Regions from separate parts of the Homo sapiens genome. Here all the other regions are reported to be linked to region 2. Evidence: microRNA targets listed by miRTarBase, many of them from high-throughput screens and not tested one by one. Region 2 holds a microRNA gene; each other region holds the end of a gene's coding sequence.
The links. Region 2 holds the annotated microRNA hsa-miR-6747-3p (UCCUGCCUUCCUCUGCACCAG, at 4,214-4,234, opposite strand). A microRNA usually pairs through its seed, bases 2 to 8, with sites in the 3' UTR of a target mRNA and lowers its output. Matches are read on the target gene's strand: a 7mer-m8 pairs with bases 2 to 8, a 7mer-A1 pairs with bases 2 to 7 and ends in A, and an 8mer does both.

Region 1: miRTarBase lists NFAM1 as a target of hsa-miR-6747-3p. Seed matches in the 3' UTR shown: 7mer-m8 at 1,296-1,302, 7mer-m8 at 1,583-1,589, 7mer-m8 at 2,302-2,308, 7mer-m8 at 3,402-3,408, 8mer at 4,055-4,062 and 7mer-m8 at 4,305-4,311.
Region 3: miRTarBase lists ALDOA as a target of hsa-miR-6747-3p. The part of its 3' UTR that is shown has no 7-base or 8-base seed match.
Region 4: the mRNA of SSH2 is a reported target of hsa-miR-6747-3p. Seed matches in the 3' UTR shown: 7mer-m8 at 5,822-5,828 and 7mer-A1 at 4,060-4,066.

The regions. Positions count from the first base shown.
Region 1 is chr22:42,378,407-42,386,225 of GRCh38, reverse strand. NFAM1 (NFAT activating protein with ITAM motif 1) reads left to right here. Exons shown (of 6, transcript NM_145912.8): 6 at 1,006-5,819. The coding sequence ends at 1,065. Among named protein-coding and RNA genes, the nearest start is that of LINC01315, 13 kb to the right of the region's middle.
Region 2 is chr11:62,562,798-62,570,616 of GRCh38, forward strand. It overlaps MIR6747 (microRNA 6747), which reads right to left and starts at 4,274; the gene lies at 4,214-4,274. It overlaps EEF1G (eukaryotic translation elongation factor 1 gamma), which reads right to left. Exons shown (of 10, transcript NM_001404.5): 6 at 4,602-4,731; 7 at 4,009-4,213.
Region 3 is chr16:30,068,947-30,076,765 of GRCh38, reverse strand. ALDOA (aldolase, fructose-bisphosphate A) reads right to left here. Exons shown (of 10, transcript NM_001243177.4): 6 at 7,788-7,819; 7 at 7,377-7,460; 8 at 7,093-7,267; 9 at 6,737-6,936; 10 at 6,352-6,649. The coding sequence ends at 6,554. It overlaps PPP4C (protein phosphatase 4 catalytic subunit), which reads right to left and starts at 772. Exons shown (of 9, transcript NM_002720.3): 1 at 672-772; 2 at 291-451. The coding sequence starts at 388. LOC112694756 (uncharaterized LOC112694756) reads right to left here. Exons shown (of 14, transcript NM_001365304.2): 10 at 7,788-7,819; 11 at 7,377-7,460; 12 at 7,093-7,267; 13 at 6,737-6,936; 14 at 6,352-6,649. RefSeq lists enhancers at 159-248, 1,871-2,050 and a silencer at 359-498.
Region 4 is chr17:29,624,487-29,632,305 of GRCh38, forward strand. It overlaps SSH2 (slingshot protein phosphatase 2), which reads right to left. Exons shown (of 16, transcript NM_001282129.2): 16 at 1,452-7,819. The coding sequence ends at 6,355. Among named protein-coding and RNA genes, the nearest start is that of CORO6, 5.5 kb to the left of the region's middle. RefSeq lists an enhancer at 1-226.

The sequences.
Region 1 (7,819 bases), not on the chromosome of region 2:
ATTTTTTGTGTTTTTAGTACAGACAGGTTTTCACCATGTTGGCCAGGCTGGTCTCGAACTCCTGACCTCATGATTCACCCACCTCAGCCTCCCAAAGTGCTGGGATTAAAGGTGTGAGGCACCGCGCCCGGCCCATACTTTCTCTCTTAAACCTGTTTGCTCATCTGTAAAGTGGATGAGCAGTGTTTTCCTGCAATACCAACTGCCTCTGAATTCAAATGTGTTCCAAGCTGAATAACATCTGCACCAGAGCTTCCAGCACCGTCAAGCGTGAGGCGTTGTTCAGCCAGAACAGGAGCCCACAGGCCTCTTGGAACATCTGTCAGGGAGTGCGGGCGCCTGGCACTTGGCCTTCTCTGGCTCGGGCTGGCACTATTTGTTAAATCGCCTGTTCTCAAAGCCCTTTCTATACTCAGCCCTCAACTAGACCCTGAGTGAAAGCAGGGACATCTCCGGCAGTGCCCACCCTGTGCCAGGCCCTGGGGTGCTGGACAGGAGAACTAGGCATGTCCCTACCCTCTGGGAGCCATAGTCTGCAGGAATAGGTCGCTGACCCCATGGACACACAGAGGCATTTGTAGCCCTGTTGTGAGGGGTGTTCTTCTGGGAGGGACCAGCCAGGGTGGGGAGGGAGGGAGGGGGTCCCTGGGACCCTATGATGAGCCCGCAGGCAGAGTGAGTAGGGGGCAGTCATGGAACAGGTGTGTCTGTGGGAGGAGGCGCATCCCACACATAGGGCAGAAGGCAGAGGGCAGAGCTGTGGGGGAAGCTCTGAGGCTGGAAGGGCAGGCCCATGTGGCTGGAGGGCAATGGGCAGGGGTGGGGGCAGCATGGTGGGGGAAGAGGCTGGGGAGGTGGGCTTGGAGACAGAGGGCAGGCCCCCCATCAAAGCTACACAGGAAGTGATCTGTTGCCCTCTGGCTAAAACTAAATTAGTGCAAGTTCATTCTTAATGGTCATTCTCTCTCTTTCTCTCCTTCCCTCCCTTTCTTCTTTTCTATCCAGGAGAGACCGCATAGATTCGAAGATGATGGCGAACTTAACCTGGTCTATGAAAATCTCTAGGATGGGCTCCACCGCTCATAGAGCTTGCCCTGGGTCAGAGGACCGGGGCAGCCCCTGCCACCAAAGGACTTGATCTGAGTTGGGAGTAAGGCCCCCAGGGACACCCCATCATTTCACCCTCACATTCAAGGCCCTTCCTGTCTTGGCCGGCCCCACTGCCCCCCCATTCTATGCCCCAACCACCAAGGCTTTCCCATCTTGGGGCCTTTGCCCAGGCTGTTCCTTCTGCCAGGCAGGCCCTTCCTCCCTTGGCCCAACCAGCAAAGCGCCCCTCAGTCTTCAAGGGCTTTCCTGGATGCCACCCTTGCCCAGAGCCCTGCTCACTGCCTCATGCTGACAGAGCAGCATGCTCTCTTGGCACCAGCCTGCACCTCAGCCAGTAGGGCAGCCTCTGAGCTGAGGGAGGACCCTGCAGGGGCGCCTAGCAGTGCTGTGTGGGGAGCCGAGGTATGGAGGAGCTGGGGAGCAGCTATGCAAATCCCTACCTACCCAGCTGGGCCAGAGGCACGAGGCAGCCAGGCAGGGTGGGAGCAGGGGCTGGCGTGGGAGGTCTGGGGGACAGACAAGGATGATGGACCCCTCAGAGGCAAGACTAGGATCAGGGACAGATCTGGAGGCCCAGGACATGGCTGAGAGGTGGTCAGCAGGCTGGGGGCATGGAGCAGAGAGGGCTTGGGTACAAGCTGGAGAGGAAGGAGATTCTGGCATGTTGGGGTGAGGGCAGAGGGACAGATGAGGGGAGGAGGGTGCTGGCTAAACAGGAACTGAATGAATGGCCTGAAGCTCCCTCTCCCAAGGGTTCCCACTCCCATTGGCCTGGCCCTGTACGTGCACTCTGTCATCTCCTTGGTCACCCTCTGCTCCAGGCCTTCTCCACCACAGGACCTCAGCTGTCCCTCCTTCTACCCAAGGTGGAGTCCCCCAAAGTCCCTTCTGTCTGGCCTATCCTGTGCCCACCACCTGTGGCTTCATCCAGCCCTCCTCCTCTATCTTTATCTGCCATAGGCCGCAGCCCTGGCCCCCTGTGGATTGAGGTCCCAAGTGGTCCAGCTGTGGGGTTTGGTGCTGGGACCCTCAATGGCAGCCGGAAGGTCCCTCTGAGGCAGAAGCTCAAGCCCCATGGGGACAGTGGCTCCCCAGTGCCTGGCCCTGAGCCATTTCTGCTGTTTCAGGTGCCCACATCACCCTCATTTCCTCCTCGCAGTAGCCCTGCACCGTGGCCAGAAACCCATCCACAGGCAGGCAGTGGCTGGGGTCCGGGTGCCCCGGGCTGTTGGGCTCTGCTTCCTCCCTCTGCTCCCCCATGTCTCCCTGAGTTCTCCCACCTTTGCTCATTTGTAAAATGGGCAGGTCAATCTTCCCACCCCACCGTGTGGGCTGCCCCAACCCCAAATGTGCCCAGGGAGGGGGGGGAACCCAAGGCACAGGCCCCGCCCCTGCCCCCAAGCAGCACTGGGCTACTGGCTCACAGAAGCACCTTTGGTTCTGCAGGTCATGCCCCTCCCTGCAGGGAAGGGAAAGCTGGTGGTAGAGGCTGGGCACAGACTGACGTCCAGAAGAAGTCCCTTGGCCCTGCTAGGGTGGCACCAGACTTCTCTGGTCCCACAGGACAGCCAGTGGCCTCCCAACTTGGTTCTGGGCCCCCGCCTGCAAGCACACATGGCAAGGAGGGCTTTAGCAGGCTCACATAACCGAGTGGCAAGGCCCCTGCTCCCAGAGGCTGGATTTGAATGAACTCCGGGCCTGTTTGGGGAGGTGAAGCTGCCAGGTGTGCACAGGGGCCTCCCAGGCTCCTGGCTCCACCAGCCAAGGAGGTGGGGGCAAGGGTCAGGGCAATGGGGGACAATGCCGCTCAGGGTGCAGTGAGCTCCCCTGGGAAAACCGAAGCCAGCAAGACCAGGAGAGGGCCACCTCACTGGGCCTGCCTCCCCCACCTCCTGGGCCTCTCTGACCTCAGCTCCTAGACCCTGGACCCTTGGCTGGGACTCAGCATTTTCCAGTCTTTTTCAGGGGTAGACAGGGGAGCCTGGGTTAAACTTTACCACTGTGCCCTGGCCCAGGCATCACCAACACGGCCTCCCTGCAGCTGCCCTGCCACCGACAGACCCCGATTAAACCCACACCTGGCCTTGGCCTCCCCTGCTCTATACCTTGCATGGTTTTTGCCTCACTTGGAATAAAATTCCAACTCCTCCCTGTGGCGTAGGAGGTTCTTGGGGGCTGACCCATCACCCCTCTGGTGGACAGAGACATTGCCAGCGTGGTGGTCGTCTGTGCTTGGTTCAGGGCAAGGCTGGGAGGCAGTGGGTGCTGAGGTCTTCAGTGAGCAAGGAGAGAGGCAGGGAGGAGGAGGAGGAGGAGGAGAGCACAGCATGAAAGGACGGGACCCTAAAGGGCTTTGGCCCAAGGGAGGGTGGGGCAAGAATGTTCTGAGACTTCTGTGGGCAGCAAAGAGGACTGAGCACCTGTTCTCCAGCCCCCAGGACTGAGAGCCTGCAGAGACAAGCTGGCACAGGGCGAGGGGTGGCAGGGAACTTCAGGGTGGGAGGTGCATGGGGCAGGCGGGAGGAGGAAGAACAGAGAGGGGACAGAGAGGGTATGAATGGGAGCTCCTGGGGTGCAGGCTTGCTTTCCACTATGAATGGGTGGAGGAGGGAAGAGAAGAAAATTGCTTTTGAGACCCACCCAGGCTGGGTGGCCTCAGGGCCTCCCTTGAATCCCTGCTCCACCTCCCACAGCCTTGTGGACTTGGGCAAGTCACTGGCCACCTGAGCCTCAGTTTGCAGTGACAGTCAAGACAGCTCAGGCCAGGCGTAGTGGCTTATGCCTGTAATCCCAGCATGTTGGGAGGCCGAGGCGGGTGGATCACTTGAGGCCAGGAGTTTGAGACCAGCCTGGCCAACGTGGTGAAACCCCGTCTCTACTAAAAATACAAAAATTAGCCTGGTGTGGTGGCACGCACCTGTAGTCCCAGCTACTCGAGAGGCTAAGGCAGGAGAATCTCTTGAACCTGGGAGACAGAGGTTGCAGTGAGCCGAAGTGGCACCACTGCACACCAGCCTGGGCTACAGAGCACGCTCTGTCCAAATAAACAAACAAACAAACACTACTCAGTGTCTCAGAAAGGACAGAAGGGGACTCCCTGGCTCAGGCAGAAGCTCAGTGGGTGTGCATTTCCTTCAAGACTCGTCCTTCAGAAGGAATAGGCTTCTGGGGCAGTACAGAGGAGTCTAAGTGAGAGGCAGGCCTCCCTGGGAGCTGGGCCCAGGCTCTCTGCAGCCATGCCTTTAAGGAGTGCCTACGGGGTAGCACGATCAGATGGACAGGCCAGGGCTGCCCAGAGCTGGGGGTGGGAGCAAGGTAAGCAGAGAGGTGAGGGAAGGAGGGTGCTGGCTTAGCAGGAGCTGAATGAATGGGCCTGGAGGGGAAAAGCTAAGGGGGATGGGGTGGCTTGAGTGGAGTAGGTGAGGCCTAGGTGAAGGGGAGCTGTGGACCTTCCAGGACGGACGGATGTGAGCAGTCCTGAGTGGGGACTGGAGTTAGGGTGGGGAAGGGAAGCCCCAGGCAGCCCCTGCAGGCCCCTGCCCCTGGGCCCTACCGCAGCAGGGCAGCCCTGTCTCTGGGTCTCAGCTGATGCTTCCCTCTGCCCACTGGCCCCTGACCTGGTGGGATTTCCCACCATCTCTCCCGGCCCAGCCTGCCCTGCCCTCCTAGGTCTTCCCAACCTCCCCTCTGCAGAAACATCTCAGCCACGTCTGGCACCCCCAGGCATCCCTGCCTGCCTCTAGGAAGTTGACCCCTTCAATGGGTTTCAGCCTCCAACCCCACCCCCGCTTGACTCCTGCTCTGTCAGCACTTGCTTGAGAAAATCATCCTGGGAAACCAGCTTCTGGGAGCAGGGGCCTTGCCACTCGGTTCTGCGAGCCTGCTGAAGCCCTCCTTGCCACGTGTGCTTGCAGGCGGGGGCCCAGAACTAAGCTAGGAGGCCACTGGCTGTCCTGTGGGACCAGGGAAGTCTGGTGCCACCCTAGCAGAGGGCCCATGGACTTCTTCTGGAGGTCAGTCTGTGCCCAGCCTCTACCACCAGTCCAGAACTTGCAGTGGGTGCGGTAAACGGTGGCCCCTCCTCAGCAAACATTTCCAGGGGATTCTGGCAGCAGAGTTTCCATGGGAACATGTGCTGGTTCTGCGCTGAACCCGGTGTGGCTGGGGTTCCCTTCACAGCCAATATTGCAGGAACTGAGCCTGGTGGCCTCGGCCAGGGTAGGCAGTGCTCTTTGGCCACCCAGTGTCACAAACCTGAACTCAAGTTACAGGCAAAACCTGCTTTTCCTTTTTCTTTCTCTCTCTCTCTCTTTTTTTTTTTGTTAAAGCACATTCTAATGTAAAGTCCATGCTCCATTCTAAAGATGCCTCTGGGATTTCAGGGATGGATTTTTATGTAGTTCAATAGTTTTCTTGGCAGACAGCTTATGCAGGAGAGGTGGGCCGTTGGCTCAGTCCAGCCAGGCTGAGTGGCGTCACTCCATTCCTTGCAATGCCAGGGGATGTCATTTGTCCACCTGAGGGGGCTTCCCCAGTCTCCCTTCCCTGACCTGTGGTCAGAATGATGGCCTCAGCCTTGACTGAGCGCGGGTCAGGCCAGACTCTCTGAACTTGGTGTTGGCGTGTGTTTTGTGTGTGTCTGGAGGTGACATATGTGGGTGACAGAAGCATATGTTACAGTGAAACATTAAAACTACAGCAAAGTGAAACTCCTCTGATGCACCTGCCACCTCCCAGCCTCCATACCCGTCCCCTCCCCAGTAGTAACCAATCGGGTCATTTGGGAGTGTTTTCTTCGTCGCTGCTTTTATGGCATCTAGGTGTCTACCTGTGAACATGTAAAATGTGGAGCGCCGTGCGGGCTTCCGAACAGCCGCGATGCATTCATTTTGTAGGTGTTGTTTGCACTTGCTTTGTTGATGCAGCCCCACGTGGTGGGATCTGCCGGAGACAGCACACAGGAGCTGCCAGACTCCAATTACAGCAAAGGATCCTGCAGGACAGATGGATCCTAATTTAATCAGGCCCCCTATCGAAGGCCTTTTCAGTTGTTTATGATTTTTCAACCTCACATAAGGGGCTGCAGGGAACATCCTTGTACACACACACATCTGCAAAACTTTCCCTATGGGAAATGAGGAGGGATTCCTGGGACCCAGTGCATAGAAGTTCACTGTTCTAACAGTCACCACCAAATCGCCAGGCCCCGAGGTTGGACTGGTTTCTATTCCTCGGACTCTTTATCTAGAATATTTCATTTAATCCTGAAAATAGGTCTGTGATGGTGGGCAGGGGTGATCTCCCCATTTTATCGAAGCAGAAGCTACCACTCAGAACAGCTGACTGGCTCCAGGTCACACAGCCCAGGAGGAGCAACGCTGGGCTGCCTCGGCGTGTGTGCAGTCCTGCTGTCCCCAAGGGCATGTGTGCAGTCCTGCTGTCCCCAAGGCCAGGTAGGGGAGGTGATGGGGGAGGCAGAAAGAGCCATGGAGGGATGTGGTGTCCCCAGGAGTAGGGAAGCCCACAGAAGAACAGGTTTCCTTCAGAGATGGGCTGGCAGCCTCACATTCCTCTTATCCAATTTCTCAGAAGTGTGTGTGTGTGTGTGTGTGTGTGTGTGTGTGTGTGAAGTTGGGGGGGTCCTCCTGCCTCCCGGTATTCTATCTCTTTGGGGAAATGGAGGCAGATCCATAGAGCCCCAGGGGTTGGGCCTCCCCAGCAGCCCACGCCCACTGTGAGGCCTGGATCCTGGCAGCCTGTATGCTCTGATCCCAAGTCTACCCTGGAAATTCCCAGGCACAGCATGCCTGGAGGTGTGAGCCGCCTCTTAGAAGCTTTATAATCCCGGATAATGCTGCTGTAATTGGCATTGTTTTTCCATTACAATCCTTTCATTACCTGAAAACTGACTTTGCAAATGGCTATATCTGGAGTGGGTTTTATTTTACCACTTTGAGGACCTTGAGGGGCCGAGGAGTGGGGGCATTTTCTCTGTCTCTCCCTTGACTGCCCCATCCCCATCCCCCAGTGAGTTCCACAGGCCCAAGTGGGCCAGATCCTGGCCTTGGCTCAGGACATAGCCCTGTACCTTGCTGCCCGCCATGGGCTGATCCAGGGATGTCTCTTCTCCCCAGATGCCCCTTCTGTCCCCCTGCCATCAAGTCCACCCATAAGAGCCTCCCTCCAACCCCTCCTCCTCCCAGCCATTCCCAGTCCAAACAAGTCTCACCTGATCTTTCTATAATACATATCTGACCACATGATTCCTCTCTCAAAAGCCTGCCATACCTTATGGTAATGGTCAATTCATTCCAACAAGGGGGCCACCATCATTCAATGGGGAACAGTCTTTTCAACAATTGGTGCTGGGAGAGCCAAACCTCTACATGACCCCTACCTCACACCCTATACCAAAACTCACAGTGGTTTCCACTGTCCATAGGATCGGGGCTCAACCCCTTAGTCTCACATTCAGGGCTCTTACCACTCCTACCACTCCTTCACTTTTTTTTTTCTTTTCTTCTTTCTTTCTTTCTTTTTTTTTTTTTGAGATGGAGTCTCTCTGTGAGGCCCAGGCTGGAGTGCAGTGGTGTGATCTGGGCACACTGCAATCTCCACCTCCTGGGTTCAAGCAATTCTTCTGCCCCAGCCTCCCGAGTAGCTGGGACTACAGGCACGTGCCACCAGGCCCAGCTAATTTTTTTTGTAT
Region 2 (7,819 bases):
TTTTCCTACAGCCTTTGATTTTTCAAAGATGTAGCCATGACATATGCAGTTTTGTGCTTATACTTTGTTGTTACTGGACATCCTATCCATGCTGTTAAGAATTCTTTCAGCCTGGGAAATATAGCGAGACACTGTCTCTACAAAAAAATTTAAAAATTAGCTGGGAGCTGGGCACCATGGCTCACGCCTGTAATCCCAGCTACTCAGAAGGCTGAGGCAAGAGAATTGCTTGAGTCCGGGAGGCAGAGGTTGCAGTGAGCCGAGATCACACCACTGCACTCCAGCCTGGGAGAAGAGCAAGACCCTGTCAAAAAAACAAAACAATCCTTTTTTTTTTATTTTTCCTTGAGACGGAGTCTAGCTCTGTTGCCCAGGCTGCAGTGCAGTGGTGCAATCTCGGCTCACTGCAAGCTCCGCCTCCTGGGTTCACGCCATTCTCCTGCCTCAGCCTCCTGAGTAGCTGGGACTACAGGCGCCTGCTACCGCCCCCGGCTAATTTTTTGTACTTTTTGTATTTTTAGTAGAGACGGTATTTTTACCGTGTTAGCCAGGATGGTTTCAATCTCCTGACCTCGTGATCCACCCGCCTCAGCCTCCCAAAGTGCTGGGATCACAGGCGTGAGCCACCGCGCCCAGCCTAAAACAAAACAATTTTTTGCACTAGCAGTCCCAGCTACTCAAGAGGCTGAGGTAGAAGGACCACCTGAGATCAGGAGTTGGACACCGGACTAAGCAACATAGCAAGACCCTACCTCAAAAACAGAATTCTTTGCAAACATTTTAATGGCCAAACAATCTTCTAATGCAGGATTGTGCCATAAATCTACTAAACATTGAATATTAAACTGAATGTTTAGTTGGTTCTATTGTTCATAGCATAAATATTGCCATGAGTATTCCAATTTCACTCAATCCTTATAACCCATGAGTTATCAACTGTTACCCTGACCCTCCCCTCTCTTTACAGATGAGACCAAGTAGAATGACCTGTCCAAGATTACACTGTAGCAAAGCAGAGGATCTGTCCTTTAACCCTAGGTCCCAGGTTCCTTTCCAAATGCATAAGAGACCTCATCTGAGGAGCCTTAAAACCTCAACCACACCAAAACTGGGGCTGGGAATTTTTTCACACCCTCCTGAACTGTTCAAGCTATTTGTTTTGAGACAGGGTCTTGCTCAGTCACCCAAGTGCAGGGGCACGATCATGGCTCACTGCAGCCTCAACCTGCTGGACTCAAGTGACCCTCTCACCTCAGCCTGCCAAGTAGTATGAGCCACTGCAGTTGACCTAGCTGGGTCTTAAAAGAACTAGAATTAAAATCTGGACATTAATAGTCTTGGTCTTTTAGGATATCACTTTTATGACATTAAAAATGTTGGGGGAGCCAGGGGCGGTGGCTCACGCCTGTAATCCCAGCATTTTGGGAGGCCAAGGCAGGCGGATTGCCTGAGGTCAGGAGTTTGAGACCAGCCTGACCAACATGGTGAAACCCCATCTCTACTAAAAATACAAAAATTAGCCAGGCATGGTGGCACGCACCTGCAATCCCCAGCTACTCGGGAGGCTGAGGCAGGAGAATTGCTTCAACCCAGGAGGCGGAGACTGCAGTAAGCCGAGATCACACCACTGCACTTCAACCTGGGCAACAGAGTGAGACTCTGTCTCACAAAAAAAAAAAAAAAGGCCGGGAGCAGTGGCTCATATCTGTAATCCCAGCACTTTGGGAGGCGGAGACGGGCGGATCACGAGGTCAGGAGTTCGAGACCAGCCTGCCCAGCATGGTGAAACCCTGTCTCTGCTAAAAATACAAAAAATTAGCTGGGCATGGTGGTGCGTGCCTGTAGTCCCAGCTACTCAAGAGGCTGAAGCAGAACTGCTTGAACCCGGCAGGTGGAGGTTGCAGTGAGCCAAGATTGCACCACTACATCCCAGCCTGGGCGACAGAGCCAGACTCCATCTCAAAAAAAAAAAAAAAAAAAAAAAAGGGGGCCAGGCACGGTAGCTCACACCTGTAATCCCACCACTTTGAGAGGCCAAGGTGGGCGGATCACGAGGTCAAGAGATTGAGACCATCCTAGCTAACACGGTGAAACTCCGTCTCTACTAAAAATACAAAAAATTTGCCAGCCGTGGTGTCACGCGCCTGTCATTGTAGTCCCAGCTACTCGGGAGGCTGAGGCAGGAGAATCGCTTGAACTGGGGAGGCGGAGGTTGCAGTGAGCTGAGATCACACCACTGCACTCCAGCCTGGGTGACAGAGTGAGACTCTGTCTCCAAACAAACAAACCAAAAAAAAACAAAAAACACAAAAAGGAGCCAGGTACAGTGGCTCACACCTGTAATTCCAGCACTTTGAGAGGCCAAGGATCACTTGAGCCCAGGAGTTTGTGACCAGCCTGGGCAACATAGTGAGACCTAGTCTCTACAAATAATAAAAAATTAGCTGGGTGTGGTGGTGTGTGCCTTTGTCCCAGCTACTCCAGAGGCTGAGGTGGGAGGATCGCTTGAGTACAGGAGGTCAAGACTGCAGTGAGCCGTGATCACGCTACTGCACTCCAGATTGGACAACAAAGTAAAACCCTGTTTCCAAAAAAAAAAACCTTGGGGAAAGCATTTCTGGCAGCCCTGTAGGGCATCATGGTAACCCAATAAATAGACATTAATAAACATTCCCAAAACCATGTTAAGAAAATGTAAAGTTTATTAAATAAAGATTTTAAGTTTACTACTGCCTCATTTATTTCCTGCCCAGAGTACTGACCTACTATATGTGAAAATCTCTAGCTAATAATTAACAACGTCTGAGTTACAACACAATATGTAATTTGGGTTAATTATCATGACCTATTTACACACACCAAAAATCCTGCTCACTCTTGACCTGCACCTGTGCTAAATTCAAGGCAAATCACTAGTTCAAAAAATACATCTTTAAAGAGTGCCTGTGTCTGGATGGAGCCTTCCTGGTCTTGTACAAAATACCCGGGAGTAAGAACTTTCAGCTATACCCCAAGTTGCTCCCATCTATTAGTGCAATGCTTGTAATTCACAATTCTATGCACAGCTACTGTGTCCCTACCAGTGGGTGCTCCTTTAGGCTGGTTCACCCGGTATCCAAGCCATTACAAGATGGGAGAGGGTGAAATGTAAACCCTAGCAGACCAAGCAGTAAAAAGATGAACGGCTTTGGAAATGACAGGGTGAGTGGGAGGAAAAAGTACAGAGAAAGAGGAGTTCCAAAGCAAAGTGACCACAGAATATATATTTCTCAAACTGCTTGAACTCCCAATAAAATGACTTGGAGCAGTGATGGAAGAAAGACTCCATCCCAGAGAACTGGGCAAGCACTCAGCGTCCTACATTTTTCATGCCAAAAATCTCGTTTTTACTATATTATTTCTTCCAAGAAGCCCTACCTTTAACTGAAAAAGGGATACAGAGGACACCTACTTTCTTCTACTTGGGGACTTTACTCGGTTGTGGAACAATGAACTAGACAGACACTACTTAGCTATGATCTTCATCCTTTTTCTTAGTGAGCAATTTTTGTACAGTCTGATTCAGCAAAACAGAAAACAAAACAATTCAAAGGACCCTGCTCTGGCATCCACTATCTCCGCACAGCCGGGCGCGTGGCGCACCGCAAGGCTCTCTGCACTTTCTTCCTCCCCACGCCTCTCCCTGTATTTGTTCTCAGAGCTCTCAAATGGTCAAATGAGCTTGCTCAAAACCAACTTACCACTATATCAAAATCTGTTCCTGTCTTTGTTGGAATAGGAGTTCAATCTTCCCCAGTACTGGCTGTACTTGAAACTTGCTCTCCACAATCAAAATTTGCCCAATTCCTGATTATCAGCCAGAAAGCTGCTTTATTTGCAACTAAAATATACCTTTAACTTTATATGGACAACCTAAAATTCTGGCTCTAGCTGTGTGTGAGGGGGGACATACAGAGGTGAGAACAGGCCTTCTTTGGTCCCACACCCTCCACCCTCCAATATCCTTACCTCTTGGGCAGGTGAGCGAAGGGGTCCTTGGCCTTGGGCTCAGCAGCCAGCGCCTGCTCACATTCATCCATCTCCTCCTCAGGAGCAGGGGCAGCCGCCTTTTTCTCCTCCTTCCGCTCAGCCTGGGGCTTCTGCTTCTCTTCCCGTGAACCCTTCTCTTTCCGTGGTGTGTCCTTTTTAGGTTGGGTCTCTGCAAACTTTTTAGCTGGTGCAGAGGAAGGCAGGAAAGTGAACGAATGTTCTGCCTCTTTCCACACCCCTCCAAAACCACACAGAGCAAGCAAGGTAACAGAGGAAACTGACGAATGGGACAAGTAAGGAACTTAGGCCCCAGACTGCTCATCAGTTCACTGTGTGTCCTCCAGCAACAACACACTCAGCAACAAATACTTTATATCGCAAATCTATATAGTAATACAAATTAGTCAGGGTATGAGTGTACACGAAACTGCACATAATATTAGCTACCACATTGACACCCTACATTCTGCAGGTCCCCATAACCCAAAAGCAAGACAGGAAATCAAGGGGTTGATGCAGAGCAAACCAGACCCTGATCCTGGCCATATGCCTCCCAGTCTCCTCAGACTCACCATCAAACTGGGCCATCTTCTCACACAGTTTCACTTCGCCCAAGACAGCCCGGAACTGGGGCTGGTTAATGCAGGTGAGGAACCAGCGGTTGGTATTGGGAAAGGCCTGGCGGAAAGAAGGCTCTAGAACCTGCCAGGACATAAGGGTGTAAACAAAGTCAGTGGAAAGGCCCTGAAGAGTTCTGTTCACAGCAAGAGTCCTTGCTCTACCTAAGTCCCAGTGCTCACCTTCTTTTCAAACCCTATAGACAATAGCTTCATACAACATCATCCTTCCCTGGATTACTTCCCATTTCTTCATTTTTTTCAATTTTTTTTTTTTTTGAGACAGAGTCTCACTCTATCGCTCAGGCTGGGGTGCAATGGCGTGATCTCAGCTCACTGCAGCCTCCATCTCCTGGGTTCAAGTGATTCTCGTGCCTCAGCCTCCCATGCCTTAGCCTTCTGAGTAGCTGGGACTACAGGTGCCTGCCACCACACCCAGCTAATTTTTGTACTTTTAGTAGAGATGGGGTTTCGCCCTGTTGGCCAGGCTGTTCTCGAACTCTGACCTCAAGTGATCCGCCCACCTCGGCCTCCCAAACTGCTGGGATCTCCGAGGCGGGCGGATCACGAGGTCAGGAGATCGAGACCATCCTGGCTAACACGGTGAACCCCCATCTCTCCTAAAAATAAAAAAATTAGCTGGGCGTGATGGCGGGCAGCTGTAGTCCCAGCTACTCGGGACGCTAAGGCAGGAGAATGGCGTGAACCCGGGAGGCGGAGCTTGCAGTGAGCGGAGATCGCGGCACTGCATTCCAGCCTGGGTGACAGAGTGACTCTGTCTCAAAAAAAAAAAAATTAGCTGGGCGTGGTGGCACGTGCCTGTAGTCCCAGCTACTCCAGAGGCTGAGGCAGGAGACTCACTTAAACCCAGGAGGTGGAGGTTGCAGTGAACCGAGATCACGCCACTGCACTCCAGCTTGGGTGACAGAGTGAGACTCTGTCTCAAAAAAAAAAAAAAAAAAAAAAAATTTTAATAGAGATGGGGTCTCACTATGTTGCCCAGGCTTATCTTGAACTCGCATGCTCAAGCAATCCTCCTGCCCTGGCCTCCTAAAGTGCTGGGATTACCCGTGAGCCACCACACCTGGCCTCCATTTCTTTTTCTAATCTTTTTTTTCAGTGTAGTCCAGTTTAATGGATGGATGCTTGGGTCCATCCTCCATTTAGGAGTAGGAGTAATAATTGTCTTGCTCCTTTACAAAACTATTTCAGATCTACTGTTTCCAATCTTTTAAATTTCAAACGTCGGCCAGGAGCGGTGGCTCACGCCTATAATCCCAGCACTTTGGGAGGCCGAGGCGGGCAGATAACCTGAGGTCAGGAGTTCGAGACCAGCCTGGCAAACATGGTGAAACCCCGCCTCTCCTAAAAATACAAAAATCAGCCAGGCATGGTTGCACATGCCCGTAATCCCAGCTACTCAGGAGGCTGAGGCAAGAGAATCACTTGAACCCGGGAGGCAGAAGTTGCAGTGAGCCGAGATCGCGCCATCGCACTCCAGCCTGGGGGACAAGAGCGAGACTTCGTCTCAAAAAAAAAAAAAGATTGAGACCCACAGAGGGCTATCGAGGACTTTTTTGCCAAATAAAATCTAAACACTATAGGTATTTACTATCTATATTGGCCATACTATACACACACGCACACACACACACACACCCCCCACACCCACCCATCCATCAAACTTCAGAAAGTAAAGAACATTCAAAGAAAATATTCAAACGCATTTAGAATAATGGACAGTCCTGGCTGGGTGTGGTGGCTCACCCCCGCAATCCCAGCACTTGGGAGGCCGAGGCGGGTGGATCACCTGAGGTCCTCAGGAGATCAAGACCAGTCTGACCAACATGGCAAAACCCCATCTCTGCTAAAAATACAAAATTAGACGGGTTTGGTGGCGCATGCCTGTAATCCCAGCTACTTGGGAGGCTGAGGCAGGAGAATCGCTTGAACCTGGGAGGTGGAGGTTGCAATGAGCCAAGATCGTGCCACTGCACTCCAGCCTGGGTGACAGAGCAAGACTCTGTCAAAATAAATACATAAATAAATAAATAATGGACAGTCCTTCAAATTAAACTTAGTGTCTGGTGTATTAAGCATGGTCAAAGAAAAATAAGAATAAACAGCTTCAGGTAGAACTGTTGTCAGTTTTCAGTTTGCAAAGCTTCAGGTAGAACTGTTGTCATTTTTTAGTTTGCAAAGACCAGAAGAGGAAAAAAAATCTTGTCATGGAAACAGAACACAGCAGTCAGAGTGCTGGTTCCACAGTACTTGGGTTCAAATTCTACTCTACCACTTAGTAGATTCACTCACTAAGATGATCCCCATGAGGCCCCTGGCACAGGGTCTGGCATGCAGTAAGTGTTTTTTCTTTTGCTATGATCACATTACTATTCTGGACCAGCATCAGTCCAAGAGCTTTTATTTGGAAACCAGTGACTTGTCATTCTTTTTTGACCCAATAACCTTGACAGTGATTATTACTACCCTGATTTTATAGATTGCAAAGAGTAAAAAACAGGACTAAAGGAATTCACCCGCATATAACCCCTTACCTACATTGGTAAACAATGAAGCCAAGGCTTGAACCTGTATCTGTCTCCAAAAGAGCTTAAAGAGCTTTTTTTTTTTTTTTGAGATGGAGTCTCGCTCTTGTCCCCCAGGCTGGAGCACAGTAGCTGGATCTTGGCTCACTGCTACCTCCACCTCCTGGGTTCAAGCCATTCTCCTGCCTCAGCCTCCCAAGTAGCTGGGATTACAGGCTCCTACCACCACGCCCGGCTAATTTTCGTATTTTTAATAGAGACAGGGTTTCGCCATGCTGGCCAGGATGGTCTCGAACTCCTGACCTCAAGTGATCCACCCGCCTAGGCCTCCCAAAGTGCTGGGATTATAGGTGTTAGACACAGTGCCTGGCCTGCCTCCAAAAAGATCTTAATGCTGAAGCTACCATCATCACCTCTGTCTTCACAACTAAGAATAACCAATCTTCCCAGGAAATATGGCAACAAACTAAACATCTTAGCTGCCAAACAGAAACTAAAGGCAAGACATTACCCAGCTTCTTAAGAGAATGGAAAGCAAGTGATGGTACTCAGTCCTGGGATTCCTGGCTGTTTTTTGTTTGTTTTGACACGAAGTCTCACTCTCACCCAGGCTGGAGTGCAGTGGGG
Region 3 (7,819 bases), not on the chromosome of region 2:
AACAAGCTTCCGTCCCCCGACAGATGGACTTGTTTCCTTGAGTTTCCTAAGTACTTTATGTAACACTCTTACTCCACTGGAAACACATCGTCTAATAAACTTTAAGTGTCTTTATCCACTCTGTCTTCCCCGAGCAGGCTAGCTTTTCCTCGAGGGCAGCGGCTCCATCCTGCTCCTCTCTGGGAAAGCTTCCAGAACGAGGCAAGCCCAAAGTTCTCAGTTGGGTTTGCCCCAGGCCAGAACCCGTGGGCGGCGGCTTGGCCTCCCTTCCCCAGGGCCAACGAGCTCACCTGGCCTTAGCGCACAGGGCCTTGACTTCGCTCTCCTTGATGAGCTCGCAGCGACGCAGCTGCTCGATCTGCCGGTCCAGGTCGCTGATCTCCGCCATGGCCCACCCCCGGCGCGGGTCAGAGTCGGGGCCGCCGCCCCCTCCGCACCGCACAGGGGTCTCCTGGGAAAGGCCAAGACGAGCCCGCGGATCAGTGTCCGTCCGGGGCTCGGAGCGGACAACTCGATTCTAGAGCCGGCCCGGCTCCCCCACCCCCGCCTCCCCTCACATCGGCCCCAGGACCCCCCGGCGTCCAACGGCCTGGCCGCACCCCCGCTAACTCCCGTCGAACCCCGCGGTCCCGCGCTAAGGACGGTGACTTAGAGGAGTCTCGCACTATTACCGCCGCTGCGACTCCGGTTCCGGCTCTCCGGCTCCCTGCCTCCCTCTTTCACTCCGCTTTCGACCGCCGCCGCCGCCGCCGCCGCCGCTCCTACTTCCGGCCCCGCCGCGGAAGCAAAGGAGGCCAGTTCCGCCGCGCGCCGGATGTGGCGTCATACACGCTCCTCTCCTTTCGCAGCGACCCCTGCACCACTTCTCCAGCCTGAGATCGGGAAGGAGGTGGAGGAACCCGGTGGCGGCCAGTGGCAGTTTTGTGGGCTCTGCCGCTGGGCGATGTGGAGGCTATTAGAAACCCTAGACCAGTCCCCTCCCATATCATTTCATAAAAATGTTTAAACAACTGTCTTTTCTTTTTTTGAGACGGAGTTTTGCTGTTGCCCAGGCCGGGGTGCAATGGCACGAACTCGGCTCACCGCAACTTCCGCCTCCCGGGTTCCAGCAATTCTCCTGCCTCAGCCTCCTGAGTAGCTGGGATTACAGGCATGCGCTACCACGCTGGGCTAATTTTGTATTTTTAATAGAGACGGGGTTTCTCCATGTTGGTCAGGCTGGTCTCTAACTCCCTACCTCAGGTGATCCGCGCCCCCACCCACCACCACCCTTCGGCCTCCCAAAGTGCTGGGATTACAGGCGTGAGCCACCGCGCCCGGCCACAACTTTCTTTTTTCTAAATTAGAGACAGGGTCTCGCTCTATCGCTCAGGCTGGAGTCGGTGGGGCTATCATAGGTCACTGTGACCTCGAACTCCTGGGCACAAGCTATCTTCCCGCCTCGGGCCTCCCAAAGTGCTGGGATTACAGGCGTGAGCCACCGCGCCCGGCCATCCCCCATTTCAGCTAGGGAAACAAGCCGAGCTGGGGCTAGGCTTTGTAACTTTATTACACTTTTTTTTTTTAACATTACACTTTTTTTTTAATGTTACACATTTTTGTTACTTGTTTTGTCAGCCTTCCCCACCACAGTCCTTGGAGGATCCAACTTTGTCTTTTTAAATATTGCAGCCCCAGTGGTTAGAATAAGGCCTGGCACGGTAGGCATATATAGATACTTGTTAATACTTGTTCAATGGATGAGGGAAGCCAAGTTCAGATCTCTTCCTGTGCCGTCAGAGAAATATTTGCCGTGGACAACTTCAGAAGTTAACAGATTGGAGTCCACTTTTCCCACGCCAAGCCTGTGCCTCAGTCAGCATGACTTCTCTGATTCCAAAATGGCACTCTTGACATTTCTTAGTTGCTTCCGTTTTTCTTTTTGAGACAGAGTCTCACTCTCTCGCTCTGTCGCCCAGGCTGCAGTCCAGTGGCGCCATCTCGGCTCACTGCAAGCTCCGCCTCCCGGGTTCACGCCATTCTCTTGCCTCTGCCTCCTGAATAGCTGGGACTACAGGCGCCCGCCACCAGGCCCGGCTAATTTTTTTGTATTTTTTAGTGGAGACGGGGTTTCACCGTGTTAGCCAGGATGGTCTCGATCTCCTGACCTCATGATCCACCTGCCTCAGCCTCCCAAAGTGCTGTACCACAGGCGTGTACCACCGTGCCCGGCCTCTTTTTTTTTTTTTTTTTTTTTTTTTGAGACGGAGTCTTGCTTTTTCACCCCGACTGGAGTGCAGTGGCACAATCTCGGCTCACTGCAACCTCCGCCTCCCAGGTTCAAGCGATTCTCCTGCCTCAGCCTCCCAAGTAGCTGGGATTACAGGCATGTGCCACGACGCCTGGCTAATTTTTGTATTTTCATTTATTTATTTTTTTAAGACAGAGCCTTCCTTGCTCTTGTCGCCCAGGCGGGAGTGCAGTGGAGCGATTTTGGCAAACCGCAACCTCCGCCTCCTGGGTTCAAGCAATTCTCCTGCCTCAGCCACCTGAGTAGCTGGGATTACAAGCACCCGTCACCACGCCCAGCTAATTTTTGCATTTTTAATAGAGACGGGGTTTCACCATTTTGGTCAGGCTGGTCTCGAACTCCTGACCTCAGGTGATCCACTCTCCTCGGCCTCGGAAAGTGCTGGGATTACCAGCTTGAGCCACCGTGCCTGGCTTCTTAGTTGCTTTCTATTAAGTTTTGTGCCTTTTTTAAGAGGAGGAAACTGGCTCAGAGGGGTTAAATAACTTGTTCATTGCTTGTATAACAGTGGATTGGGGATGTTACACTGAAATTTGAATCCGGGGCTAGGTGTGGTGGCTCAAGCATGTAATCCCAGCACTTTGGGAGGCCGAGGCGAATCACTTAAGCCCAGGAGTTCAAGACCAGGCTGGGCAACAGAGTGAGACCCAGTCTATAAACAAAAAGAATAAGAAACTTGGGCTGGGCGCGGTGGCTGACGCCTGTAATCCCAGCACTTTGGGAGGCTGAGGCGGGCGGATCACGAGATCAGGAGATCGAGACCATCCTGGCTAACATAGTGAAACCCCGTCTCTACTAAAAATACAAAAAAATAGCTGGGCGTGGTGGCGGGCGCCTGTAGTCCCAGCTACTTGGGAGGCTGAGGCAGGAGAATGGCGTGAACCCAGGAGGCAGAGCGTGCAGCGAGCCAAGATTGCGTCACTGGACTCCAGCCTGGGCAACAGAGCGAGACTCTGTCTCAAAAAAAAAAAAGAAAGAAATTTGAACCTGGCTGTGTGTGGTGGCTCACACCTGTAATCCCAGCACTTTGGGCAGCCGAGGCAGGTGGATCACCTGAGGTCAGGAATTCAAGATCAGCCTGACCAACATGGTGAAACCCTGTCTATCCTAAAAAATAAAAAATAATAATAATTAGGTTTGGTGATGCGCTTGTAGTCCCAGCTACCTGGGAGGCTGAGGCAGGAGAATCGCTTGAACCCAGGAGGCGGGGGTTGCAGTGAGCCGAAATTGTGACACCGCACTCCAGCTTGGACAACAGAGTGAAATGCTGTCTCAAAAAAAAAGAAATTTGAACTCAGAAAGTTGTGTCCTCAGGTGTAGTTTTTTTTTCTATCAATTACTCTTTCGGGAACTCAGATTATCATAAAATTAAGAGGTCCAGGCCAGGCATGGTGGCTCACGCCTGTAATCTTAGCACTTTGGGAGGCCAAGGCAGGCGGATTACCTGAGATTGGGGGTTCAAGACCAGCCTGGCCAACATGGTGAAACCCCGTCTCTACTAAAAATACAAAAAATTAGCCGGGTGCAGTAGCGTGCACCTGTAATCCCAGCTACTCTGGAGAGGCTGAGGCAGGATAATCGGTTTGAACCCGGGAGGCAGAGGTTGCAGTGAGCCCAGATCGTGCCACTGCCCTCCGGCCTGGGCTACAGAGCGAGACTTCGTCTCAAAATAAATAAATAAATAAAAGTCCAAATCCCCCAAACTGGTATATGACGTTCTCTGCTTCTCTAGTCTTTTTTATTTTTTTTTTTTTGAGACGGAGTCTCGCTCTGTTGCCCAGGATGGAGTGTGGTGGCACAATCTTGGCTCAGCGCAACCTCCACCTCCTAGATTCAAGCGACTCTTCTTGCCTCAGTCTCCCGAGTAGCTGGGACTACAGGCGCGCGCCACCATGCCCAGCTAATTTTTGTATTATTAGTGGAGACGGGGGTTTCACCACATTGGCTAGGCTGGTCTTGAACTCCTGACCTCGTGATCCGCCGGACTTAGCCTCCCAAAGTGCTAGGATTACAGTTGTGAGCCACCGTGCCCGGCTGAAACTATTGATCTTTAAACAATCTCTCCAGTCTCTGAGACTCTGCACATGTTCCCTTTTGGAATGCCCCCTTTGCCATCTTCTACCGACCTTCAATTTTTATTTGCTTTACTTCAGTGTTTGTTTCCCAGAGTTGAATGAGCTAGGCAGACAAATTAATCCAAAGTTTAGAGGGATAATAGTGATTGGTTTTGTTTTAGATGTAAGCAATAAAAGCAAAATAAGCAGAAAAGGGAAGGACCAAGTTTTATTTTTATTTTTTGGGACGGAGTCTGGCTCTGTTGCCTAGGCTGGAGTGCAGTGGCACAATCTCGGCTCACCATTACCTCTGCCTCCTGGGTTCAAGCAATTCTCCTGCCTCCGCCTCCCAAGTAGTTGAAACTACAGGTGTGCGCCACTATGCCCGGCTAATTTTTGTATTTTTAGTAGACACAAGGTTTCACTATGTTGTCCAGGCTGGTCTCAAACTCCTGACCTCATGATCCGCCCACCTTGGTCTCCCAAAATGATGGGATTATAGGCGTCAGCCACCGCACCCGGCCTAGGACCAAGTTTTTATACTCCTAGAAGGTTCTAGGTAACTCCGTTCTACCTGAATCACTGCAGAGATTCTCTAGGTCCAGAGAGCTGATGTAGTTACTGTACACCCCAGCCTGGGTCATTGGGGAAAGGCTCAAAGTAATGGCATGGCACGCTCATTCTAGCTTCATGGAAAGCAGCAGCTACAGAGACACAGTTCTTCACCTGGAGCCTGAGCTCTACAGCTTAACTTCTGTATCTGCATTACCAAGGGGGTATTGGAAACAATTCAAGGTTTTTATGGGATTCCACAGCCCAAAGGAGACTAAGAAGCCCTCTCTAATTCCATCTCCTGTTAAAATGGGAAAACAGGCCAGGCGCAGTCACGCCTATCATCCCAGCACTTTGGGAGGCTGAGGCAGGCGGATTACCTGAGGTCAGGAGTTCGAGACCAGCCTGGCCAACATGGCGAAACCTCGTCTCTACTAAAAATAAAAAATTAGCCGGGTGTGGTGGCTTGCGCCTGTAATCCCAGCTACTGTGGAGGCTGAGGCAGGAGAATCACTTGAACCCGGGAGGGGGAGGTTGCAGTGAGCAGAGACCGTGCCATTGCACTCCATCCTGGGCAACAAGAGCGAAACTGTCTCAAAAAGAAAAAAAAAAAAAGATGGGAAAACAGAAAACTCAATAGTGTAGATTAAGGAGATAAGCATTGGCTGGGCGCAGTGGCTCACGCCTATCATCTCAGCACTATGGGAGGCTGAGGTGGAGGAACCATGTGAGGTCAGGAGTTGGAGACTAGCCTGGCCAATGTGATGAAACTCCACCTCTACTAAAAAACACAAAGATTAGCCAGGCGATAGTGGCGTGAGCCTGTAATCCCAGCTACTTGGGAGGCTGAGGCAGGACAATCGCTTGAGCCCAGGAGGCAGAGGTTGCAGTGAGCCAAGATCGTGCCACTGTACTCCAGTCTGGGTGACAGAGTGAGATTGTCTCAAAAAAAAAAAAAAAAGAGATATGCATTGATAATCCTTTCCACCAAGAAACAGTTCAATCTTGGGCAAAAGAGCCTTAGGTATAAATTAAAAATAACAGCATCTACTCATATAAAACACCCATTATGTTGCCTGGCTCATGTCACTCATGAGCTAGTTAGTGGGTTTTTGTCACAGGGGTCTTCTGCCCCCCTTGAGTTCTGGACCTAAAAGTGCTGAGGCTGAAGCCTCCTAAGACATGAGCAGTTACAACCATACTCCCCAACTGTTAGCCCTATCTTATGCTGTTAGGTGAAGGGGCAGAGCCTGCAGTGGCTGGAAGAAAATGTCACAAGCTCTCAGCCTTTCTTGAAGCCCTGGCCAAGTATAAAACAGAGCAGGAAGGTCCTTCCACCTTTCACTCCTTTTCTGCCCAGAAAAAACAGAGAACAGGGGCTCTTTCTTCTTCTGGGCTCTGCTACCTCCCCAGGCCCTCCCCTGCATTAGACACCACAAGACACGGACGGCCGACTCCCCCTTAAATAGCTGTTTATTTGGCAGTGTGCCGGAAAGGGTGATGGACTTAGCATTCACAGACGACACCACACACCACTGTCACGAGGGAAGAAAGAGCGCGGGCAAGCCAGCCTGGAGCCCCGAGGAGGCGGCCTCCTCTTCAAGAGTGGGAGGGGGCAGGGCCTGGAGTGTTGGGGGCAGCCTGGGAACACCTCCGCTTAATAGGCGTGGTTAGAGACGAAGAGGGACTCGCTGGCAGCAGCCCCAGCCTGACCGCTCGGAGTGTACTTTCCTTGACAGGCAAGGCTGTTGGCCTAAGCAGGGAGAGGGGTGGAGTGAGAAGGGCTCTTCTCCGAGTCCCATCCACCCAGGCACCCTGCCCACCTCCTGCCTATCCTTACCAGGGCTCGCTTGACATACTCCTCCTGCGCAGCCTTCAGGTTCTCCTTCTTCCCGCCCCAGGCCTTCAGGGCAGAGGCCTGCAGGGCTCGGCCGTAGGAGAAGGTCAGGGCCCAGGGCTTCAGCAGGGGGCACTTGTTAATGGCATTGAGGTTGATGGACGCCTCCTCCTCACTCTGGCCTCCAGACAGGAAGGTGATCCCTGTAGAGCAGGGGTGAGGCGAGAGGGGCTGTGGTCAGAGACCCAGGAAGCTGGCAGGAGCTGGTGGAAGTTGCCATGGAAATCCGTCCAAATGGGCATAGGGTTGTGGGTGGAGCTTATCTACTGCATAGAGATCAAGATGAGTGTGGGCCTCACCAGTGACAGCGGGGGGCACTGTGCGGCGCAGCGCTGTGACGGTCGCCATGGCAATCTCCTCATGAGAAAACTTCTGAGTGCAAGCATGGCCTGGGGTGACCATGTTGGGCTTCAGCAAGGTGCCTTCCAGGTAGATGTGGTGGTCACTCAGAGCCTTGTAGACAGCAGCCAGCACCTGGAGCAGAGCAGGCGCACGGTGGGTAGTGGGGTGGAGGAGAGGATAGGGGTTAGCCCCAGGGTCCCCGGCCAGCCACCTTGCACTGGTCAGGCAGGTAGCCATTTACCTTCTCGGTCACATACTGGCAGCGCTTCAAGTCATGGTCCCCATCAGGGAGGATCTCAGGCTCCACGATGGGCACAATGCCATTCTGCAGGGCGAGGGACAGGGTCACTGTGAGGCCTCCTAACCCAGAGTCCCACCTACATCTCTCCACAGCCACTGGTCAAGACCGTATCTTGATGATGCCAGGGACTCAGGCTTCAAAGCCCTCAGATTACAGGAGACAAGAGCCGCCTCAGATCCACCCACCATCCCTCCTTGGCCCCTCTGCCTTCAACAGCCCTTGAGTGTCCTCCACGGGCCAAAGCTAATGCTTGCTTTTGGGGAGGTAGGCATCATGGCAGGTAATAGGCAAATTAACAACACTGGAACCAAATGAGGTAGGAGGTTGCCTATTGAGGACCTGCAGGCCCACCTGCTGGCAGATACTGGCATAACGGGCCAGAA
Region 4 (7,819 bases), not on the chromosome of region 2:
AGAATTGCTTGAACCTAGGAGGCAGAGGTTGCAGTGAGCTGAGATCATGCCACTGCCCTCCAGCCTGGGTGACAGAATGAGACTCTGTCTCAAATAAAACACACGCACAAAAAACCAAAAAACAATCCTCTAAGGTGGGTACTGTTGTTATCCCTATTTAACAGTTGAGGAAATGGAGCCACAAAGAGGTTAGGTGGCTTACCCATCACAACCTCAACTGGTAGTTGATGTAGCTATGATTCTTACCCACGTGGTCTGGCATCTGGTTCTTGCTTTTCAGCAGCATGCATTTCTGTCTCTCCCTGAAGGACAGTGCCACTTTATCTCACAAGTGCTGAGCTAAAACGTAACTGAGAGTTTATACTGTGTGGCACAGAGGAAAGGATGCCTGGAATGAATTAAAAAACTGGTTCCAGTCCTGGCTCAATCGCCATATTTTTACAGCTCTCTGAACAGGATTGGGTCAGATTCTTTCCAACTCTGCACCACTCCTTAGCAGAGTAGGGATTTTATGTGCTGCCTCCTCTGAAGTGGCATCTCCCCTACCCCCACCCTCCTTCTCTTTAAAGAGAACAGGAGACTCCCTTCTAGAGGGAAGCGCTTGGGACTAGGAAGCAGGAATCCTTCAATGCGTGCTCCCTTCAGTTCCATCATCTAGGAAGAGCAGTGCTTTCTGGGTACAGGGATTCAGATATTTGCTTGGGCCTGGCGTAGCTCAGCCCTGCCCTCTAGCCTTCTTCTGGCTGCCAAGGCCTGACAGAGCTGTGAGTGGGCAGAGTTAAGGCAGGAAGAACCAATCAGGGAGAGAAGCTACTTGGGCTTCGTGCCTCCCTTTTGAACTGTTAGCTCTGAACGGCAATCCATAGAAGACAGCCATGGATTTCATCTTTTAGGAAGCCATTTTCTGGATGAGGTAGCTCGCAACTTAGCCATGATTTGGTCCATCTGCTTTGGCTAGAAAACCAAGACTGAACTTATCTAGATTGGTCAGGGATCCCAGGGATCCTTAGAATATTTTGTGAAAGACCTTACCTTCACCGTCATGCACTCCAGCTAAAGACCAGCACTGTGCCCCTCCCACTTGATATGGATGATTCAGAATGAAGCAGGCTGACTTTAGTTCAAGGCAGTGATTTTTTTTTTTGAGGGGGGCGGGGACTTCAAATTTTGTTAGCAATTGGGAACTGGAAACTGAGCTCTCCCTAGATGGTAGTCCTGCCTTGTATGTGATGAATGGCACCACTAAATATCTCATGATGTTCATGTCCCATTTCTAGACATTTTTCAGTGGGCTGAGGTGTTTCATTTATTTCTGGGGACTCAGCTCTCTCTTCAGGGTGACATGACTGGGATCAATCATTGAAAACTACTGGTGTTCACTGTGTTTCCTCTTCTGACTCTCCCACCTTCTCCAGCACCTCCCTCCTTTGTTGCATCTGATGAAGTACACGTTTCATCTTCAAAATAAAAATTTATTCAATCTGTAACAAGAACATTGAATCTGCACATTTGCGCACAAGTTCACATTTAAAAACAGTGGAGCATATCTGTAATAAAAAAATCTATGATACAAGTGGAACATCCCAACCACCAGGAAGATTAAGGAAGGAGATGAGACCACTCTATATTCTGCTTCAAATGCCTCAAAAATGTCCCAGAGATTCCAGGGAGCACCTGCTTTAATAAAACATGAGCATAAAAGTTTGGGGTGGCTTGGGGCAAAGGTAACAGTCAGAGGAGAGTCTTCTGGACTTGTTTTCCATGTTAGAACAAGTCCTACAAAACAAAGCAGAAAGAAAAAAAAAAAAAAAGAAAAGTAAAGGCACCTTTAGATATGCCAAGCAAACCAAAATCCAACAGAACATAAAAATCAAACATTTCCCTGTGGGCTTACTGATTGGGAAGCACTTCAGGGCCAGTTACCCAGTTTTTAGTTTGGGTATTAGCTCTGCATGTGTACACAGGACGCTGCCACCAGCATTGCTTTGAGGACACAGACGGCAGCACCAGTCAAATGCCTCTTAAGGGATCTTCAAGGTGATTAAGGATGATTCCAGTTTAGAAATCCTATCCTAGACCTCTGGGGCACTGAGAAAATGAGGCTGGTTATCTTCTCATAGCAGGAGCCAGGGCCAGTCACCCTCCATTTCCAGGCTGGAAAAGTACAGAAGCACCTTGCAATAGCTCTTCATGACGTCAAGGGACCCCACACCCTGGGAGAAGGGTTAGGAGTGTGCAGCTTCCTGCTTTGGTGGCAGGCCTTTTCCTAATATGGGTGTCAGAGGAGTTGAGGCAGCAAATATGCTTGTGTCTAATACATGCCTTGATCTTTTAGTTTGGAAGGGAAAACAAAGTCCAAGATGCTTTTAAGTTGGATTGATGCTGAAACAGCTAAAATTTCATCTTATCCACCATCAAAAAGCAAAACAAAATTAAACAAAATGACACTAGCCATTCACCATTACAACCATCACTATAAGACACACCATCACTGAGGAAATGACAACTATTTCCATAGAGAGTGCTGGATGGGAGGGCAGGACACAGACGGAAGTCAGCTTCAGCGTATACCCACTTACTCACAAGGGCTGACCATGATGGCCCTGCTCTGCATGAGGACTCACAGGACAGCCAGGGCACTGATGCCTGCAGGACTGCATGGCCGACAAGATGATGCACATTTTAATATTCAAAATGTAAACAAAGTATCCACAAATAGTCCAAAAAAGCCAAAGAATGGCTTTACTTAAAAATTTTTAAATGCCCTTAAAAGTGACTTTTTGCATAATGCTTTCTTAAAAAAAGAACTCTCACAAAAACATTTTTACCAAACATGCCTAGATCACTTCAGAACTGAAATCCTCAGATGAAACAGGTGAACACTTCTGTGACCTGCTACATCTCAGAAGCTTCTCATAGGAAGCTTTGAGTTTACCCAACAGCATCTGTCTGGGGCCTGTGAGCAGAGTACCTCAGAGCCTGAGGCACTGAGATCTTCAGGCTGTCCTTGGAGCTCTGGGTAGTTTGCAAAATGAGAAAGAGGAACTATCAGTAGGGATAAAGACACAGAACAAGGAAATCCATAACCCTGTCTCAAGCCTCCTCAGAACCAGGAAAATACTAAAGATCCTGAAGAGACTAAGATGATAGGAATGATCCCAAACATTTAGAATCTGAAAGGCAACTAAAATGAGGAGAGATGAATATTACGGTACTATAGTACTACATGTCTACTACAGTATCCATTAGTCCTGGGTGTCTCCAAAAATCAAGAAAGGGTTGGGGTTTCCCTTTCTACTGACCAGGTTCAGCTCAAGTTCTGTATGCTCCTGGGGCTTTTACCCCATACACCAAAACATCAACTGTTTTTATATATGTACATATGTGTACACATGCACATACACTCCTCCAAAATAAGTGAGAGTCTATGGTGGTTTAAAAAGAGAGAGAGAGAGAGGAGAGAGAGAGAGGCAGGCAGGCACTGGGCAAGAGTCAAAGTTTTTCCTATTCATCTTTGCCAGTCTATCAAATCTGCTGCTTCAGGTCAGGTCATGAACAAAAGAAAAGGGAAAGATGCCACTGGAGATTATAAAAGTCTGAAGAGAAGACAGTCTGGAAAGTCCTTGACAGTTCACTGCGCACCTCCCCTGGACACTGCTCAGCTATGTAAATAACCCAGGAACACCCAATTCTGGGAGTCTGAAAAGGCTGGCACAAACTCCTTGGCATGGTTGAATGACAGATATTCTGTAGAAGATGTTTATTTAGGCAGGTAAATTAAATGATAAAAAAAGTAATTATAAAAAGGCAGAAAGACTTTCCTCTGCTCTTGAAAATTTTTTTTCCCCACAGTATTAGTGGGTTTTGTCCCATCTTTGTTGTTATTTAATGCAGTGAGTGAACATTAAACACAGTGGAGGGGAGAAGAGGGAACAGTCCAAAACTTTGGTCCTGCTTGTACCTCTTAGTGTGTGGGATGTCATCATCGTAAGGGGTTACCACAAGTGGATGCCACTCTCTTAACTTCCAGGCAAACCCTCTCCCCACCCTGCCATAAGTTCCTGCCCTTCCCCATCATATTGGTGGTGGAACTGCTTCAAGAAGGCAGGGTATTCTACATGGAAGAGCTCTGGAAATCCATAACCCTGTCTCAAGCCTCCTCACATTGGTTCATACCACCTAACAAAACACTTTACAACACACAAATATCCAGGAATCACAAAACTGAGTGGATGAGATACTTGAACATTCAAGGAGACTACTGAGCAACAGCACAGGGTACACATAATCACTGCACCATAGAGACGCTTTTAGCAAGTGGTTTCTGTCCAACCTGCTTCCTGGCAGGGATGTCAGACCCAGCCTTGGCTTCCACACAACTTCACAGCTCCTCTTAAGACCCAGTGGCCCCAGTCTACCTTTTCTGCATCTTTTGGGTCGCCCTGCCATCTGCCCCCACCAAACTCTGGCCTCTGACATCATGCTGACAGTCTGTGCATTTGTATTTTCCTCAGTGCTGTGATAAGCCAAAAACCTGTCTCCAGTCTATACTCAGTCAATCCTCAGTAACGTGGACATCAACGAAAGCAAATCTGCAAGCCTCTTCAGTTTCAATGAGATGCAGAGGTGTTTCATGCTAGACTAAATCTGTTTTCTGTAAGAAGCTACAAGAGGCTTGTTTATGACAGGCGCTGCTGCGTTAAGGATCTCCACAACAGTAGCAAAACGACAGCATCCTAAATGGAGTCACTGTGGGCACTTGCCCCTGGCTGAGGCCTCCCCTGTGGCCTTCAGCCTCTACTAGGAGCTTCCACTCTGGGCAACTCACATATACTTCCTGGCTGTGGTTGAGATACTGGCAAACAATGTTCTGGGATTTCAGTCTCACAGAGAAATCAGCTTTCAGTCACGCTGTGACCTAATGGGAGCCTTTAGGGGTGTCTCTGAGGAAAAAGTTACTAATGCATAATTTGGCAGGAGCTGGTGATTGGAAGTCTCCATTTAAACAACTACAGCCACCATCAACATATTGTACAGATTCCTATCAACACCCAACACTTTCATTTCTGGTGTCTGTGTTTTCCAGTTGCAACTCTACTCCTTCTTAAAAAGAATAAATCAAAATTACCCTACAACATGAACAAGACACTAAGACAGTGACAATATTATGTACATAAATACTGTGTACAAACTTTAGAGAAATGACAAACCTTCCAGGAAAAGGAAAAAAAAGTGTTAACAGTGATAATACCAAAAATAAAACGTTGCATTCAATGGATGTTAAACATATGTAACAATTCAAATATAATCTATGAAATTTAAAAAAATAGGCAGCATGGGGACAACAGCATGGGGAAGGAAAATAAACTGGAAGAAAATATGGCCATTAAACTCAGAAGGCCCAAAGAATTATTCAAGTAATGGAAGGGTTAAAACCCTACATACATATTCATTTTACAAGAACACACTGACTTTCGATTGCTGCTTTTCAAACATGTCACTGTTGTTTTCAGTTGGGAGGACACTGCAGAGCACATTTTTCTGGCAGGGAGAGCCAAGATGCCCATCTGTGTGGATCCCACCAACCCAGCAGTTTCTGGGCAGCAGCCTCTCCACCCCCAACTTTATGTCTTCCTCCTCTTATCATGCTTTCCTCTACAGAAGACCACTTGGATTTCATTTGGGGTCCTGTTTTAATTTCAAAAATAATTTTCTTGGGAAAAAAACTATATGATAAATTTGCAGAGCCGGCCATTATCATGTCTTACTGTAACGATACACTCTGGAACACCGGAAGACCCTCTTTTAAAGCAAAGCGGAACCTGCCTCCTTCAGGAACTCTAAAGGGCTGCGGCTGGATGAAGGCTGAGAGCCCTCTGACTTCTGGCTGACCTTTAGCCCATTCGATGCCTCAGGTCTGGAAACCAAACCATCATCACAAAGGCAGGGGAACATCTCCAATCCCCAGCTTTATCTCCACCCCTCCGAATCTGCTTCCTTCCCTCAATTAAGAAACCATGCCTTTTCTCAGAGGGCAAAATGAGAAGCAGGTGGCAGCTGACTGAAAAACAGCAATTTGCCTTTGATAAAGGTGTTCTCTGAAAATGACTTTTTTGAGGTTTGATTTTTTTAAATAAAAAATGATAAACGGTCTTGCCATCCAGATCAATCTCTCTTTCCCCTTACATATACACACACATACACACTGAAAAACACCCAAACCCTGCATGCACCAGAAACAGTAAAATGACCAAAATATTATAAAATTAACCAATAAAGTGCATGTTCCTTACATATTACACCTGCCCCTTTTACAAACATTTCTTCTAGAAAGTCACATGTGTAGGCTCAGAATCACATGGTATTATAGAAGGGGTTGGTTGTCCGTTTTTTGTCATTTGCCTTTTTCAGTCTCCTAAGGGGGTGAGTTCTGCCGTGTTGCTGACGGGGTGCCACGGCCAGCCCTGGAGCTGGGCATGCACACTGCAGTCCCTGGGTCTGTAGCACGGGAAGGCCTCCTTCAGAACTAGTCAATTCAAGTCCTGCCCTGGGGAGCAAATACTGCTGACTAGAACCAAATTCTTTGGCATACTGCACAAGGGGCCTCTCCACTGGCTTGCTCTGCACAATACACTCTGTTGTTGTGAGTTGTTCTACAAAAGACTTGGTGGGCTCTGGGTTGTGGGGGGCACCTGGGTTTTCTAGGGACTCTTGGTCCTCCATCGCGTGCATGCCTGAGTCTGTTCTGAGGAAAGGCTGAAGCAGTTTGAGATGAGGGGATTCACAGGAGGCAGGCTCCCTCTCTGGTAAGCAGTCTTTACAGAGGTCCAAGTAACCTAATTTGGCGAGAGAAGCTGAGCGCCTCATTTGGGATGGTTTGGTGAGCCCTGCCTGGAAAACCACTCGAGACTCGATTTCTTTAGCACGCTCCTTCACCACACCGGGGCTGTGGCTGAGACTCTTTATGTTTTCACTACTAGAGCTATGTGGGAGTCGACAGGCTACAGGCAATGGGTCCATTTTCTCCTGTAACTCCCCAGTGTTGTCACCAAGTTTGCTAATTAAACTTAGGTCTGCGCTACTTAGCTGGGAGTCCTTATATGGCACCTCACTGCCACTGGAGAGAGGGCTCTCCTGACTTTCTTCCCAGCTAACCTGTTCTGCAGAGGGCTCATCTGTAGTGCTGCTCTGCTCTGTGAAGCCCTCCAGGTGAACCATAGTCTGGGGATGCAGGTAATCCAAACTGGCAGACAGTAAATGGGTTGTATGACTGACAAAAGGTGCTGCTGTCTCCAGGGCTGTGGACAGGCTGCTGCCTCTGTCTTCAGGGCTACTCAGGATGGAGGTTGGATGGTCAGTGGGTCTGTTGTGCTCAGGGGAGGAAGAATGAGGCAGAGGTAGCACTTGGGGGTGCAGAGAAACCTGGTTGGGGTCCAGAGTCCTGTTTAGATTTTCATCCAGTGTGCAGAGCACAGTGACAGATTTTTCCATGTTCACTTTCCTCAGCCCTTGCTCTCCGCTCTTCTCACTGGTGGCTATTTCACTCCCTGGCCCAGTGTGATTGGGTGATGTAACTATGTGGGTATATTCAATGATTTCTACCCTCTTGGGAAGGGGAAGAGGGACTGCTTGTGTTTCAGACTCCTGGTATGGAATCACAGTCCTCAGATCCTTCAGGACTCCTTCCTGCTGTGTTCCAGTATCTGACCCTGGGCCCTCCTGAGGATCTGGCAAGTGGTCAAACTCCAGCACCCTGGGAGCTGGAACAGTGGCATTCTGCTCAGAATGGGACAGTGAGCCAGCCTCAGACCCACTGTAT